Linked DNA regions of Homo sapiens: region 1 is linked to region 2. The links come from fine-mapping of genetic effects on gene expression. Tissue or cell type: blood mononuclear cells. Region 2 holds a variant in brackets; the other region holds the start of a gene. All regions are shown on one strand. Distances are between the middles of the regions. Region 1 holds the start of SUCO (SUN domain containing ossification factor). Region 2 overlaps SUCO (SUN domain containing ossification factor).

Region 1 (4,397 bases), 21 kb before region 2:
TCTATGGAACTTCTATTTATTTCATCTGAAGTCTTAGAATAGGAAAGAATCAACACAAATATAGAAAGTCACGTGAAGAAGCTAATTTATGGGGAAAATGAGTTCAATTTTGTGCAGGTAAAATTGGAAGTGATAGAATAATATGTCCAGCAACTACTTGAAAAGAGGATGGGATATAGGTTTAGGAGTCAACAGTATAGTTGAAAATTAAAATTGCTCAAGAGAAAAATGGAAAAAGCTCGGAGTAGTGAAGGATTAAACCTTAACATGAAACCATGGAAATGAAGCTGCAAAAAGAGAAAAGAACATTTATAGATTGAAATAGTAAAAGCTAATAATTGGATGATAATTAGGTGAATGGAAAGCCTACCACGGGGGTATTAATAAAGCTCCAACTGCAGGAGAAGGAAGGAAGGAAGGGAGGAAGGCAGGCAGGCAGTCAAGGAAGGAATGAAAGAGAAAGAAAAAAGTAAAATTATTTGTACTTGCATGTTTCAAAAAATCATTGCAGGGACTTGGTGGAAAATAAGTGGATGGGTTTGTGAGTTTGGGATGAGAGGGTTAGGAGATGTAACTTGATAACTTCCTAGATTTGAGATAAGCACGTATTCTAATATAACTTCTTTGGCTGTGATGCACTGAGGATCAGCTGAGGGATACCTCAGCTGTTTCCTATCCTGAATAAAAGTTCCTGGAGTAAGAGGAAAAGAGTGTCCAACATGGTAAAGAATGTCAATTTATCCCTACCCTTTCATTGCCCCTACTTTCTTTTAAACTTGCATATTAATCATTTGATACTGTTTTTGGGTGAGATAAATACTTGCTTCCCGCAATAGGTGACAGATGAAAGGATTTTATTGTCATATACTAAGAGTGGCATCAGCAGATAAGTGGAACTGTACCTAATTACTGCCAGAAAAGGCAGTTCAGGGTGAACTCCTTTAAAACAAAAATTATCACCCTTTGTATAATTTCTCTAACATCAAATTGACTTATATCCAAGAATCACAGAGCGGATCAAATCATTCAGTTCTTTGGGACTATAATTAACATCCAATTCAACTTAGAAGGTTCATAAGGAAATTCCGCGGCTCAAAATTAGGCGTTAGGTGGGCATTTTACTGAGGGTTTTTTCCCTACGGCCACATGAACAATAAGTAACCCGTCCTTTAAACATTTTTCACACTAAACATTATGCCATGTTCCAAGGCACAGACCATTGCAGCCTCCGTCCCCTCAGCGGCGTAAACACTTGGAATGGGCATGCTGCCCCGTTACTTAGTATTGAGAAGTGGTCACTTTTTGCTCTTCTTAGGTGAGTGTAAGCGACTGCCTTCCCCACTTTAGGTGAACCCCAGGACTTGGAGCGTCTGTGGGTGCTCCTCTAATGGGGACAACTCCTCCCTTCCGACTCCATCGCAGAGAACCCAAAGTTCGAAACCAACAGAACGAAAAGCAACGAAGCACACTTAAAGTGAGGAACCCGGCAAGCGGCGAAATTCTTGCTGAAGAGAAGAAAAAGCGAAAGGTTTTCCGCTGCAACCAATCAGATGAGAGGATTCTTGGCACGCCCCTTTCTATCTACCAATCAACATCTAGCTCAATGGGGCAGTCCATTGCCACAGGGAAAGGGCTTGGTGCAGCTTCCCTCACAACACACACGTCATTCTAGGCCATTCCACGAACTGTGCTCAAAAGAGGAAAACAGTGCAACAGTTCCAAAGCTGATCAGTCTCGTGGTGAGCAGCGAAACTATAGACTTCTCTAACAAAACCATGGATTCTAGGAGGGACTGGGAAAGAGAAAAACGAATTCTGGAAGGCAAACTACAACTCCCAAAGGCCCTTGCGCGGACTCAGCGCGCGAGGGACGAAGGGCGGTCCACTGTAAGGGGAAATGCTGAGGATCACTGGGCTCCTCCCGGCTTTCTGAACGCAAGCCAGCAAGTGGGCGGGACCTGGGGCGGGCGGAGCGGCGAGAGCATCTGCTCCTGCGCTTTGTGGTCTCCTGCCTCCGGCTTCTCCGCCTGCGACGTCGAAGGGGGCGTGGCCTGCGCAGAGGCTGGTGGGGGTGCGGGCGCCGCGGGACTTGGGTGACGCGTCCCTTTCCAGCTCAGCGGTGTGTGAGGTGTCGCGGCCCCGCCGGCGATTGGCTGTTGAGAGGCGAGTACGCGGCGGCCGTTGGTCGCTGGCCTCACGGAGCAAGGCCCCCGGCGGGCGGGGAGGATATGGGGCGGCAGTGGCGGCTGCAGGAGGCGGGCGTGGACGAGCCGGTGGCTGCAGCGGCGGCGGTCCCCGGAGTCCTGTGAAGCGCCCCTGTCCGCGCCTCTGTGGGGCCCTCAGAGAGGGCTGCCAGGACGCGAGCCACTGAGGAGCCGCTCAGCCAGCGCCATAGCCCTTAGGACTATCGGTCACATTCTCGCGCTCCTGCTCCGGCTCCTCCATCTTGGCCTCGGCAGTGGCGGCTGCCGGGAGGATGTGCCGCCTTCTGGCAGGGGGAAGAAGGAGGAGAAGATGAAGAAGCACCGGCGGGCCTTGGCCCTGGTCTCCTGCCTCTTTCTGTGCTCTCTGGTCTGGTGAGTAGCCGCGACGACAAGGGAGTTCCCGTGAGGGGAGTAAATGGGAGGGAGCAGCCCAGGTCACACCCCCTGGTCATTTTGGCTTTTAGGGTCCGGGTTTCCAAGGCCCCCGTGGAAGGGACAAACCGATTACTTCTCGACTCTCCATCTGACTGGTCTGGTAGTGCTCTGTGCGGAGATTTTCATGGTGTATTTTGGAATTTACAGAGACTCAGTGGGAGAGAGAGAGGTGCCAAGGTAGAGGGAACCACCAAGTGCCTTTGTACTCAGTTCCTCTACCCCTTGGAGACGGTGCAGGGTTTGGGGTGGGTGTTCAGATTGATGGTAAGTAAGTTGCTCCGATTTGCCGCCAGTCTTTGCGTTCTTAGTGTGGTAAGGGGATAAAGCACGTCGGATGTGATGCGTTCCGGACGTGCGATTTTAAAACGTGAGTGGTCATGAAGGTAAGAGTAATGTATAAGCAGTAGTTCTCCTGGACATTTCTCGCACAGCGTTTGATCCCAAGTACACTCGGGCCGCTGTTTTTGGAAACTTGGGGGGCGTGTGTGTATGTGTGTTATGAAGCACTTTTTCAATTGGTTTGGTGGAGAGGGTGTCTTAGATGTAGTGTGTGTAGTAGTTTTTGGTAATGCCCCTTAGTGACGGGAAGGTAAATGCTGTATTTTCAAGGCGGGAAGAGTGCTTTGTCCCTAAAGCACTCCTTAAGTTTTACGGAGTTTCTGTTAATCCCAGGCACTTCTGGAGTTTTTTGAGGAGCAGAGAAAGCTTGTAAGTCGAGGGACTGCTGTCACCGTACTTGGAAAAGCCATTCTTTCCTCCCAGGGAATTTCTTCAAAGATGTGTGACAATTGATGACTGAAAAGATGCTTCTTCAGTCTAGGCGATTTGCTGTTTGTTATATTAAAATAGAAATTAAGTTTCCTGTTTTGCTTATTTCTGCAAAGCACCAACACTATTTTCATTTTTATGGATGCCTTATGGATTCCAGAAGCACTGAAATTGTAGAGTTGTTGCTCACATAAAATAATACATAAACAAGGGGAAGAGAAAACACTCGCCTGGCTGAGGGATTTTTATTGGAAGAATGATAGAAGTTTTTGAGAACAAAAACAATTGACTTATTACCTTTCATTCTGAATCCTTTTAATACCCGTCTCCTGTTTTTAATAAAATCCTCCCCTTTCTACTTACTGTGTTGGGTACGGAGAAGTGCCTGTAAGAGATAAATCCACTCACCTCATTTTAAATTTAAATTTGTAGATACTGAAGCTTGTATTCATTTCCATCTCTTTCTGGGGCTGCCTAGTTATATTTGTAGACTGTGTATTTTCTTTCCTCTTTCTTCTTGGTCTTGCCCATCTTTAAACCATGTTATTCATCATCAAAAGTTTCTGAAATGGCTAATAAGGAAAAGGTGAACACTTTCATTCAAGTTTAAAAACACACCAGTATCTCTGGCTTTTTTTAATTTTTTAATTGGATGGTGTAAACGAAATCAAGCAATAGAATGTGATTCTTACAATCATTTGTAAATTTAAGTTAACTCTGCTTCTATTTCTTTTGGGAATTTCTGGCTATCTTTTGATTAAGCTAACCCTCAGTATGTTTTCTCACCTTCAATCATTAGCTCTAGTGAAGAGCTAATGAATTTCCCTGTTAGGGAACAAATCGGTTGGCCTGGTATTGAAAGTAGTAGTAATAAACTTCTGTCAAGTTTTTTAACTCCTAGTGAGGAAAATGGATGTGGAGAGTTTAAGAGTGTGAACATTTTAAGAAACTTTAGCTTAAGAAACTATTGGGTTAGTATATTTTGAGATTT
Region 2 (4,397 bases):
TTTTGCAAATGAGAACTATTAGAAGTGAGTATTCCAGGGAGAATCTACAGTCAGTGGCTTTGTAGTTTGTTTTATGTAATTAGGTGCAGTAAATATAAAGACTCCAAAAAACCTCATGGTCTTAAAACATGTATTATTTTACCATTCTAAATGATAAATGGAGAGTATTGACTTGATTTGGCTTTTGCCTTTAACTTCAGTGTATTTATTTAAAATTACTGAAGTAATTTATATTGGTATAAAATATTTATTATTTATGTCTCATTCCTTTCCCCAAAGGAACAACAGTCTACTATTTCTTGTGAAAACGTTTGGACCTTGTTCTGTGGGTATAGATAACACCTTTATATTTGCCCACAAATTAATATTTTTATTTCCATGAAAATATCATATAAATATATTACAAATTGCCATCCCCCTTCCCCTCCAGTGATAGCTCATATATCATCTTTTCATGTTGATATATTCTGAATGGCTGCATTTTAATCTTGTTATATAGACATTATTTATCAGTTGTTCTTTATTGACAAACTTTTGCATTTTGTTCCCTGCCATGTGTGCACACATGTGGGTGTGTGTATCAACACATACTTACAATTACATACTTGAGGGTTTTTTGGGCATATTTAGAGTGGATTATTTAAATTTAAGTTATGTTGGATATATTTCTGGGATGGAGCATTTAAAATTTTGAAGACTTGCCGCATATCTCAAAAAAAACTATAATTTTATATTTTCACCCACACAGTATATAAGATTTTGATTTAATCCCCCTTTTGATGAAGCATTTTGCAAACAAATGTCATAAAAGTGAATTTAAGCAAAGCATTAAGGGGGAAAGCATGTTCTTTCAGTAAACATTTAGATACCTAGTATGAGCTAGATAGGCTCAGGTAAACAAAGATTGAATATGAACTTTTATGAAAATTACACTCTAGAAGGCATAAAGGTATTAGAAATTCTAACTTGAATGTATGTCAAAAAAGAGATGAAAGAAAGAGCTTTATGTATCTTCATTTGTCAGGTATTCATTGGAGTTTTACTAGGTGCTTACAACGGTGCTGGATGGTAAGACTAAAATGCTTATTAAGAAATCAAATGAAGTTCTTGAACTGGTGTATTGCACATTTTAAATGTTGTAGCAATGAGGGGATTCAAGGAAATAGACAATAATCTTGTATACAAATGAAATTAATTAGAGTCAAATAAACAAGGCAGTTTTTTGGTTTTAAAGTATGGAAAAAAACCATCTTCGTATTGCTTTATAACTGTTTTGTAAAACAGTTTTATCAGGTGATTTTTGTTGTTGTTGTTATATAGGATGAAAGAGAGGGACCTATCAATGCCGAATCATTGGGAAAATCAGGTTCAAATTTACCTATTTCTCCAAAAGAACATAAATTAAAAGATGATTCTATTGTGGATGTACAAGTAAGCTATGTCGCTTTGATTTTCAATAATATGTCATTTCAAACTACTTTACAAGATTGAAAACCTTTGGTCACCATATTGTGTGTGTATTGTTAGTTTTTTCACTTTGAGGTACTCTGTAACTGGACTTAAGATTACTTACCTGCTAATAGTACTACTTTTGAGAACATGTAAAATTACAGATAATAATAAATGTGACTAGTCTCTTGGTAGTAAAAGTTTGAGTATAAATCCTCATTTCTTCCTCGGTTCTATTTTGGTTCATTATGATGTATCTTGTCTCTTCAGATTTTCAGTTGTTAAGAAATTTTTTTCTAACCTGAATCACTTGGAACAAAAGGGAGTATTTTTATGTAGAACACAGAGTATTTTGATAACCA[A/G]GATTTCCACTTATTGTGGGTATGAATAGATAATAGATCAAAATATGTTTTTTCCCTTTTTCTCTCATATTACATTCTGAATATTGTTTATTTTGTGCACCAGACTTTATGAAAAATACTAAAAACTAGAATATATACACCATAAACTGATCAGAATGCTGAGGTATCTGGAAACCATGTAATATCAGTAATGGCTGAAGGTACTGGGGATATTTTATCTGTAGGCAGAAGGACTAAGGAAAAACTAAAATCTCGAATATTAAAAAAAGAACACACATTTCAACTCAGAATGAGGGAGAATTCTTTCTTTTTAAAAAAATACAGCCTTGGCTAATTTTTTTTTCATTTTTTATTTTTTAACCTTGTACTTTTTGCAAGAGCCAGGGCTATTTTATAACTTACTGAGTTATCTAAAGCAATAGAATTAGTTTCATTTTATTGGATTCTGGAAGACATTTGTCAAGGGTTTATGCATAGGAGTAAGAGAAAAATGATACTTGTAGCCCTTACAATTGTATGACTATCCTGAACACTCCTACCGTTATTCATAAAACTTTTATTATGATGTAGTTGTGCTCAAATACTTCCGAGTGCTTACCATGTCTTGTATACCTATGTTGTTCATTACAGTAGCCACTAGCCACATGTGGCCATTAAGCACTTGAAATGCGGCTAGTCCAAATTGAAATTTACTGTAAGTGTAAAATACACATTGGATTTTGAAGACTTAATTAAAAAATAGCATGTAGGCCGGGCACAGTGGATCACCTGAGGTCAGGAGTTCGAGACCAGCCTGGCCAACATGGTGAAACCCTGTCTCTACCAAAAATACAAAAATTAGCCAGGTGTGGTGGTGCACGCCTATAGTCTCAGCTACTCAGGAGGCTGAGGCAGGAGAATTGCTTGAACCCAGGAGGCGGAGGTTGCAGTGAGCCGAGATCATGCCACTGCACTCCAGCCTGGGGCAACAGAGTGAGACTCTGTCTCAAAAAAAAAAAAAAAAGCATGTAAAGTATCTCATTAATTTTTAAATTTTGAATACATGTTCATATGGTAATATAGTATTTGATAATAAGGCAGTAGTCATTTTCTCAAGGCCTCCATCATAAAAATGCAGATGACTATTTATATTTTTTTGTGAATTTCTCGGTGTAAATAATTCCCCAAATGATCATACTTTATATTCTCCGGACTGCGTGCCTCGATGTTTGTTTGTGCTCTTGTACTGGCCCTCCTTTTCTTTAATGCCTAGCTCTTCTAATTCATCATAGTCCTTAGTTTCTTTTTCCTTGAGCTGAACATGAGTACCTCTCACTTGATATTCATTTATTGAGCATTTAAACACCTACTGTGCGCTAGATACTGTGCTAGACACTGGGAATATGAGGATCAAGAGAACATAGTTCTTACTGAGGACATTTATGGTATAGTTGAAGAAGAGAGGGAGACATGAATAATGGCAATTGAGTTGTTATAGATGCAGTGATAAAAGTGTACAGAGAACACTGGAGGCATAGGGGAAAGGGAGTAGTTAATTCTGTTTAGGGTTGATCTTGGAGGAGGAGGTGCTGATAGAGGTTTTCAAATATGAACAGGTGTTAGGTAGATTTCACATTGTGTTTTGGAGGACTGAAAGGCCCAGGTCATTCAAGACTGAAGGAGCAGTAAGAATCATTTATTGCTTCATGGTGTTACTTGAACATATCTTATATCGTTGCTTATTGATACACATTATTTCCTAAACTGCTCAGGGTCAAGAACTATGTATTGTACTGTTTTGTACATGTCCATAGGGTTTCTTTGTTGCTACTATCATTCATCAATTAGAGAAGAGGGAAATCTCTGTAGGTCCTGATGCAAAGTAGGAAATAGGTAGGGAGAAAGTGCTTTCCTAGTTTATGAAATGCCATGAAAAATGCTTAGGGCCTGTATTTTCATATGAAATGCATTCCTTAGGGCGGTAATATTGGAAGAAAGGATTTTTATAAAAGTACTTTTTTTAGTGAACATTGTTTATATTGTCATTTTTCAGAAATGCTTTCCATAAATGCCCGTTCTGCTAAAGAGATGTTATATTAATCTCAACATTTAATTTAGCTGACTTGTTTTTTTAAACAGAATACAGAGTCAAAAAAGTTAAGTCCACCGGTGGTGGAGACACTCCCTACAGTTGATTTGCATGAAGAGTCTTCCAATGCAGTTGTGGACAGTGAAACTGTTGAAAATATTTCCAGCTCATCTACCTCAGAAATCACTCCAATCTCAAAGCTTGAGTAAGTTGTTACAAAAAACAAACACAAAAAAGAATCTCCTTAGTTAGTGATAGAAAAATTTCCTTAAAAGATAAAGCAGCTTGATACTCAAGTTTGAAGTTTAGGCTATATAGCAGACCTAAATTACAGTGCTTGTGTTTTGTGTGCGTATGTGTGCATGCGTTTGTGTGTTTTGAATGTAATGATTTTATAACAAGTTTATTTAGCTAACTAACTCAATGAAGCTGATAGATCCCAGATATGAAATCTCTATATAGTCTGAGCAAAGTAAGGTTCTACTTAGGAAACAGTGCTTATTTGAATTGAATTCCCT

The links. PIP is the estimated chance that this variant, and not a neighbour inherited with it, causes the effect.
Region 1: it holds the start of SUCO, and the variant in region 2 is the best candidate, but not a certain one, in a credible set for the expression of SUCO in blood mononuclear cells (TOPMed, PIP 0.76).

Annotation. Positions count from the first base shown.
Region 1 is chr1:172,530,923-172,535,319 of GRCh38, forward strand. SUCO (SUN domain containing ossification factor) reads left to right here and starts at 2,228. Exons shown (of 24, transcript NM_014283.5): 1 at 2,228-2,575. The coding sequence starts at 2,514. RefSeq lists enhancers at 1,427-1,536, 1,597-1,846, 2,457-2,616 and a silencer at 2,167-2,336.
Region 2 is chr1:172,551,940-172,556,336 of GRCh38, forward strand. SUCO (SUN domain containing ossification factor) reads left to right here. Exons shown (of 24, transcript NM_014283.5): 3 at 1,321-1,431; 4 at 3,930-4,084. Among named protein-coding and RNA genes, the nearest start is that of SUCO, 21 kb to the left of the region's middle. The variant A/G (reference allele first, on the strand shown) is at 1,812.